Regions from separate parts of the Homo sapiens genome. Here regions 2 and 3 are each linked to region 1. Evidence: fine-mapped expression QTL. A gene starts in region 1. Each other region holds a variant in brackets. All regions are shown on one strand. Distances are from middle to middle.

Region 1 (2,727 bases):
AAAGATGGAGTTCTTGTGACTGACTCCTGATATCAAGATACTGGGAGCCAAATTAAAAATCAGAAGGCTGCTTGGAGAGCAAGTCCATGAAATGCTCTTTTTCCCACAGTAGAACCTATTTCCCTCGTGTCTCAAATACTTGCACAGAGGCTCACTCCCTTGGATAATGCAGAGCGAGCACGATACCTGGCACATACTAATTTGAATAAAAATGCTGTCAAATTCCCATTCACCCATTCAAGCAGCAAACTCTACCACCTGAATGTACATGCCAGGCACTGTGCTAGACTTGGCTCAAAAAGATTTCAGTTTCCTGGAGGAACCAGGAGGAGCAAGGTTTCAACTCAGTGCTATAAGAAGTGTTACAGGCTGGACACGGTGGCTCACGCCTGTAATCCCAACACTTTGGGAGGCCGAGGCGGGCAGATCACAAGGTCAGGAGATCGAGACCATCCTGGCTAACATGGTGAAACCCTGTCTCTACTAAAAATACAAAAAATTAGCCGGGCGTGGCGGCAGGTGCCTGTAGTCCCAGCTGCTGGGGAGGCTGAGGCAGGAGAATGGTGTGAACCCGGGAGGCGGAACTTGCAGGGGGCCGAGATCGTGCCACTGCACTCCAGCCTGGGCGACAGAGTGAGACTCTGTCTCAAAAAAAAAAAAAAAGTGTTATGATGCAGACCTGTCAAAGAGGCAAAGGAGGGTGTTCCTACACTCCAGGCACTGTTCATAACCTGGACTCTCATTCATTCTACAAATGGAGGGCTCCCCTGGGCAGTACCCTGGAGCAGGCACTTTGCTGGTGTCTCGGTTAAAGAGAAACTGATAACTCTTGGTTGGTATTACCAAGAGATAGAGTCTCAGATGGATATTCTTACAGAAACAATATTCCACTTTTCAGAGTTCACCAAAAAATCATTTTAGGCAGAGCTCATCTGGCATTGATCTGGTTCATCCATGAGATTGGCTAGGGTAACAGCACCTGGTCTTGCAGGGTTGTGTGAGCTTATCTCCAGGGTTGCCCCAACTCCGTCAGGAGCCTGAACCCTGCATACCGTATGTTCTCTGCCCCAGCCAAGAAAGGTCAATTTTCTCCTCAGAGGCTCCTGCAATTGACAGAGAGCTCCTGAGGCAGAGAACAGCACCCAAGGTAGAGACCCACACCCTCAATACAGACAGGGAGGGCTATTGGCCCTTCATTGTACCCATTTATCCATCTGTAAGTGGGAAGATTCCTAAACTTAAGTACAAAGAAGTGAATGAAGAAAAGTATGTGCATGTATAAATCTGTGTGTCTTCCACTTTGTCCCACATATACTAAATTTAAACATTCTTCTAACGTGGGAAAATCCAGTATTTTAATGTGGACATCAACTGCACAACGATTGTCAGGAAAACAATGCATATTTGCATGGTGATACATTTGCAAAATGTGTCATAGTTTGCTACTCCTTGCCCTTCCATGAACCAGAGAATTATCTCAGTTTATTAGTCCCCTCCCCTAAGAAGCTTCCACCAATACTCTTTTCCCCTTTCCTTTAACTTGATTGTGAAATCAGGTATTCAACAGAGAAATTTCTCAGCCTCCTACTTCTGCTTTTGAAAGCCATAAAAACAGCGAGGGAGAAACTGGCAGATACCAAACCTCTTCGAGGCACAAGGCACAACAGGCTGCTCTGGGATTCTCTTCAGCCAATCTTCATTGCTCAAGTATGACTTTAATCTTCCTTACAACTAGGTGCTAAGGGAGTCTCTCTGTCTCTCTGCCTCTTTGTGTGTATGCATATTCTCTCTCTCTCTCTCTTTCTTTCTCTGTCTCTCCCTCTCCTTCCCTCTCTGCCTCCCTCTCTCAGCTTTTTGCAAAAATGCCAGGTGTAATATAATGCTTATGACTCGGGAAATATTCTGGGAATGGATACTGCTTATCTAACAGCTGACACCCTAAAGGTTAGTGTCAAAGCCTCTGCTCCAGCTCTCCTAGCCAATACATTGCTAGTTGGGGTTTGGTTTAGCAAATGCTTTTCTCTAGACCCAAAGGACTTCTCTTTCACACATTCATTCATTTACTCAGAGATCATTTCTTTGCATGACTGCCATGCACTGGATGCTGAGAGAAATCACACATGAACGTAGCCGTCATGGGGAAGTCACTCATTTTCTCCTTTTTACACAGGTGTCTGAAGCAGCCATGGCAGAAGTACCTGAGCTCGCCAGTGAAATGATGGCTTATTACAGGTCAGTGGAGACGCTGAGACCAGTAACATGAGCAGGTCTCCTCTTTCAAGAGTAGAGTGTTATCTGTGCTTGGAGACCAGATTTTTCCCCTAAATTGCCTCTTTCAGTGGCAAACAGGGTGCCAAGTAAATCTGATTTAAAGACTACTTTCCCATTACAAGTCCCTCCAGCCTTGGGACCTGGAGGCTATCCAGATGTGTTGTTGCAAGGGCTTCCTGCAGAGGCAAATGGGGAGAAAAGACTCCAAGCCCACAATACAAGGAATCCCTTTGCAAAGTGTGGCTTGGAGGGAGAGGGAGAGCTCAGATTTTAGCTGACTCTGCTGGGCTAGAGGTTAGGCCTCAAGATCCAACAGGGAGCACCCAGGGTGCCCACCTGCCAGGCCTAGAATCTGCCTTCTGGACTGTTCTGCGCATATCACTGTGAAACTTGCCAGGTGTTTCAGGCAGCTTTGAGAGGCAGGCTGTTTGCAGTTTCTTATGAACAGTCAAGTCT
Region 2 (2,762 bases), 48 kb before region 1:
TTCCAGGTTACAAGGTAGATTATTCTCAACAGAAAGGAATGTCTGGGTTATGATAAGCGGTTGTGGAGACCAAGGTTTTATCTTGTAGATGAAGCCTCCGGGTAGCAAGCTTCAGAGGGAATAGATTGTCAAAGTTTCCTATCAGACATAAGGTCTGTGTTGATGTTAATGCTGGTCAGCTTTTCCTGAATTCCAAAAGGGAGAAGGGTATACTGGGGCATGTCCAACCTTCCCTTCCATCATGACCTGAACTAGTTTTTTCAGGTTAACTTTGGAATGCTCTTGGCCAAGAAGAGGGGTCCATTCAGATGGTTGGGGGGGCTTAGAATTTTATTTTTGGTTTACAGTGAAGACTTATCAAGCTATACACTTAAATGAGTATGTTGTTAAATGTAAACTATAACTAAATAAAGATTATTTTAAAAGAAATTAATGCAGCTAACCGTGACCCCTGGCAAAATAAAATAGTGTATATGTACGTGCATATACATGCAAAGAAATGAGTTGAAACTAGAAGGATGCCAATCAAATAATAACATGGTCATCTTGGGGTCGGAGTACATTTGGGGATGAGGGGAGCTGTAAAAGCAGACTTGGACCTTTTCTTCTACCAGTACCGTGTCATTTGAATTTTGGAAAGAAAAAAAAAAACTCAGAAGGAGGAGAAGGAGCAGGAGGAGAAGAAGATGGATCTTAAGTGATTTGCCCGGGAGCACCTTGAGAAGGTGAGATTCAAGTCTAGGTCTAAGCTTTCTAATTCCATGAGTGGGAGTGACCCACGTCCAAGAGGAAGCTCAAAAGGAAGATGTTCTCCATCATCTCTTGCTCATCCTAACAGCATGCAAAACCACATCCAATGCAGCTCAGAAAACTCCCAAATTGCCAAATTTCATTGGAAACACTTAATGCTGTGGTTTCCAATTTCAACTGTAAAGTAGGTATGTATGCCATTGTTACCATTAACTTCTCAGAAATGGAGAGAGCTCTCTTTCCGCCTCCTCCCCCTCTGCTGTGGCTTTGGTGAGACGTGCACTCAGGCTCACCTGTCTCCATGATCTCCAGTAAGTACACATGAGCAGAGAGGCCTCAGCTCAGCTCTTCCTGGTCCCACCAGGGTTGATTCTTTGAGAATTCTGGAATGCCACATCCTAGGCCCCCCAAAGAAATCCTGCATCTTACCCCCAGAAATATGAATCATAGCAAATTTCAAATCAACCATCGTTTAATACTCACAGACTGGGCACATCCAAAAACATATTTTCAGTTTTACAACAGTGCCTGGTGCATATCGGCACTATTTGTGGAAGCAATAAATCGACACGGAGCTGAAACACAAACAAATGCCAAATTGTTTTTATAACACCTGATTTTCTTTCTGTTTCTTTATGCAGTTTAGTTTTGTTTTGCTTAACTCTACCTCAGACCATAGTCTGGTAAACTCACCACCCAGAAGCTCCCTTGAAATGTGGGTATGCAGCCACTAGGTGGCAGGAGAGAGTTTCCTGCCTGGAGGGAGGACAGCCACTCTGTCCCCGGGTCAGGCCAGGGCCACCCTGCTACCTGCAAAATTAGCATGGGGCTTTATGAACCACAGCTTCCTAATAAACACAGGATCTGTTTGATAGAG[C/A]CTCCAAAACACGCCTACCTAGTGATGAAAGACTCAACTTCAGAAGAAAACCTTCATGGCAAACATCTTCAGAGATGTTTCCAACTTAAGGTTCTGAACACAGACGCTTCCCCAGAAAGCCATTGTTTCTCAGCACCTGGGAGCCTTGCTTTGCTTTGCTTACAGACTCGCTGTTCTTAAATCACTGCCAAGATAACATCTGTCTCTTCTCTTACCCTCTATTTCGATATAAGGACTCCTCACTCTTGTTGCTTCCTATTGGCTACCTCTCCACAGGGAGAAATCGCTGATTTAACAGCAGTCAATATCCCAAATCTGGAACAGGGAACAGGGAAGCATTTAAAAATTGGAGAATTTAGGCCGGGCACAGTGGCTCATGCCTGTAATCTCAGCACTTTGGGAGGTCGACGTGGATGGATCACTTAGGAGTTCGAGACCAAGCCTGGGCAACATGGCGAAACCTCATCTCTACAAAAAAAAAAAAAAAAAAAAAAAAAAACCCAAAAATTAGCCGGGCATGGTAGTGCACACCTGTGAGCCCCAGCTACTCAGGAGGCTGAGGTGGCAAGACTGCTTGAGCCCTGAGGTCGAGGCTGCAGTGAGCCGAGATCACACCACTGCACTTCAGCCTGGGCAACAGAGTGAGACCTTGTCCCAGATAAATAAATTAAATTAATTTAATTAGAGGATTTAAGGATTTTCCCTACAGACACCTCCTTATTTTCTCTGGCCTTTTCTGACTACTCTCCCTAACTCCCTGCTCCTCTGGTCTCCCAAAACTACTCCAGAAAAAAAAAAGGGGGGGAGGGACTAAAGGAAAGCCAGGTGACAGTGCCAGTGTGACAGATGACAAAGCATCTGCCCGAACAAACCGTAGGTCCCTGAACTTTCTCCAAGACCTATCTGTGGACTTACCTATGAAAACCAGTTTTAGCAAAAACCCTCCTAAGCCAGTTTATCAAGATCCCCTTATCCTCAATATCCATCTGATTGGATTCTTCATCCCCCACCATTCCCCAGTGATGTCACCAGGCCTTTCTTCAGCAACAGTAGTTAGTGGGTGTAGCCAGGACGCCCCCTCACCCCTGATATGCCCTTTTAGTAATTCTTCATCCACAGGTTCCCACCCTGCTCC
Region 3 (2,762 bases), 130 kb after region 1:
GTGACACAGGACATACAGGGAAGGCCATAGGAAACAATGAACAGTAGCTGCCTGGCACCGCAGCTATTGTTCATTATTGAATTAATGAATTATCATCATCCAAAATGGTTAAAATGTTCCCGTCTTCATTTTCTCTTCAATAAGTTATGTCTGAATTGATTTTTTTTTTTGAGTCAGAGTCTCGTTCTGTCACCCAGACTGGAGTGCAGTGGCACGATCTCGGCTCACCGCCACCTCTGCCTCCTGGGTTCAAGCGATTCTCCTGCCTCAGCCTCCCGAGTAGCTGAGATTACAGGTGCATACCACCACACCCAGATAATTTTTGTATTTTTAAGTAGAGACGGGGTTTCACCATGTTGGCCAGGCTGGTCTCGAACTCTGTACCTCAAGTGATCCGCCCGCCTTGACCTCCCAAAGTGCTGGGATTATAGGCGGGAGCCACTGCGCCCGGCCGTCTGAATTGATTTTTAAAGAAGATAGGTTGGAGAGACCTGAGAGTGGCAGCTCTGTAGGAGTGACAGTTCACAGAAGTCTCAAATTCACACTCAGCAGGCAGAAGCAGTGCCTGTCTGTGAGAAGCTGAGAGTTCCCTCGGAGGGCGGCTCCTGGGGGGTTCTGGGCAGCACAAGCTAAGCCCTGTGCGGAGATTCTAGGTCGGCAGGAGAGTGACCTAATTAAACACACAGGCTTATTCTTAGACGAGGAGCCCCAGTTAAGGCCCCTGGGTAAGCACAGCACAAAGGCACAGCCCTAGAGGTGACCGGAATAATTCTCATTTTTAAGTAGCAGCCACTTTTTTTTATTATAAAAGTAGTACACATTCATCGTAGAATGTTTAGAAAATATAGAAAGTACAGGAAAGGAAATGCTCTCTACTAGAAATAACCGCTATTTTTGCTTATTTCCTTCCTGGTCTTCTTTTTATACATATTTACTTATTTGACGACTGAGGGGAAATGTTTATTCACAAGTGTAAGTGAAAAAAATATATAAAATTATAAACGGCACAATCCTAAATTTGTTCTGCAAATTAGGACTGTTATACATATGCAGTTCTGTGTCCTGTTTGTTTCATTCAATATTAAAAACCAACATCTCCTTTATGTCATTAAATATTCAGCAACTTGATTTTTAATGGCTTCATAATGTCCATCACATAGAATAGTGTATACACTGTTGCCCTGTAATGGGGCATTTAGGTGGCTTCCAATTTTTCAAATAACTCTACCATGAACCTCCCTGTGTATTTTTAATTATTATCTTGAGCTGATTTCTAGAAGTGAAAATTATTTAGAACTCTTGTTTTGCATTGCCAAATAACTTCCTGAAAATCCCCAGCTATTGGCACTTCCACATCATATAGAAAGTA[C/T]AGAAAAGTCCCTAAGTGTGGGACATCTTGGTTCCTGTAAAAACAACCTGAGGTTCCTTTTTTTTTTTTTTTTTTGAGACAGAGTTTCGCTCTCATTGCCCAGGCTGGAGTGGAATGGTGCGACCTCAGCTCACTGTAACCCCCACCTCCTAGGTTCAAGTAATTCTCCTGCCTCAGCCTCCCAAGTAGCTGCGATTACAGGCATGCACTGCCACGCCTGGCTAATTTTGTATTTTTAGCAGAGGTGGGGCTTCACCATGTTGGTCAGGCTGGTATCAAACTCCTGGCCTCAGGTGATCCACCTGCCTTGGTCTCCCAAAGTGCTGTGATTACAGCTCAGCTTCTTTATCAACGGACAGCTGATCCAGATCAAACAGAGGACACTGCGAGCAAGGAACCAGATCCTCAGAGCCGTCTGGTGCTTTGTGACTGAGCACAGCCAACACTGTCTCCTAGCAGGAGTCACCTTTCACCAGGTTAGGCTGCTGTAACCAACAACTCCAGAATTTTAGGGGATTACAGCAAGCACGGTTTATTTCTCACACACATCATTCAAAGATGTGGGTCAACTGTGGCTTTATTCCATGTCTTCTTAGTCTGAGACCCAAGCTGAAGGAACAGCCCAGCTCCTATCTCCAACCTCATGGTCACGGACAAAGACACAAAGCAGAAGTCCACAATGGTCTTTAGAGCTTTGACTTGGACTTGGCGTGTACAACTCCCACCCTCTTCCAAGCCTAAAGCCAAGGAAGCAAGGGAATACACTCCTCCCATGGGAAGGTGCTCCAGGTCCCGCGGCCTGGGGTGATACAGACAGATCCTGTTACAGAGTGGACAGAAGAGAACTGGGAACAAGGATACAATCTGCCACAGCTATGAGCAGTTGGAAACGATGCTTAGTGTTCATCGTCACTAAATCTGACGTCAGGAATCTCTGGCACCCAGAATACCACCTCATACTGGAAAATCCCATGCCCTAGAAGCCTTCTCCAATGGCTGATGAGAAGGATCACCTAGGTTTGACTTTTGTGCCAATAAAAGGAAAAAAATAAAATATACGTGTGTTGTGTGTGTTTATGAACATATATTTATAAGTAGCTCCATGTAAAATAGTGAAGGTATATGCTGTTAAATTTTTAAAAGGCAAAAGTAAAATTATATGTATGACAGGCTACCATTTATTTATTGTTTGTTTGTTTGTTTGTTTTTGTGAGACAGAGTCTCACTCTGTCGCCCAGGCTGCAGTGCAGTGACGCAATCTCAGCTCACTGTAACCTCCACGTCCCAGGTTCAAGCGATTCTACTGCCTCAGCCTCTCGAGTAGCTGGAATTACAGGCACCCGCCACCATGCACAGCTAATTTTTGTATTTTTAGTAGAAACGGGGTTTCATC

Alleles and levels. Positions count from the first base shown, and alleles are read on the strand shown. Sizes are in standard deviations (SD) of each study's normalised expression. Not every link is listed here.
With allele C in place of A in region 2, the expression in unexposed skin of the gene that starts at base 1,636 in region 1 is lower (small effect, 0.26 SD a copy in GTEx).

The links. PIP is the estimated chance that this variant, and not a neighbour inherited with it, causes the effect.
Region 2: its variant is fine-mapped to the expression of IL1B in unexposed skin (GTEx, PIP 0.94).
Region 3: its variant is fine-mapped to the expression of IL1B in whole blood (TOPMed, PIP above 0.99).

The regions. Positions count from the first base shown.
Region 1 is chr2:112,835,688-112,838,414 of GRCh38, reverse strand. IL1B (interleukin 1 beta) reads left to right here and starts at 1,636. Exons shown (of 7, transcript NM_000576.3): 1 at 1,636-1,707; 2 at 2,171-2,232. The coding sequence starts at 2,186.
Region 2 is chr2:112,883,821-112,886,582 of GRCh38, reverse strand. No RefSeq gene overlaps it. Among named protein-coding and RNA genes, the nearest start is that of IL37, 26 kb to the left of the region's middle. The variant C/A (reference allele first, on the strand shown) is at 1,628.
Region 3 is chr2:112,707,011-112,709,772 of GRCh38, reverse strand. No RefSeq gene overlaps it. Among named protein-coding and RNA genes, the nearest start is that of NT5DC4, 13 kb to the left of the region's middle. RefSeq lists an enhancer at 1,221-1,400. The variant C/T (reference allele first, on the strand shown) is at 1,370.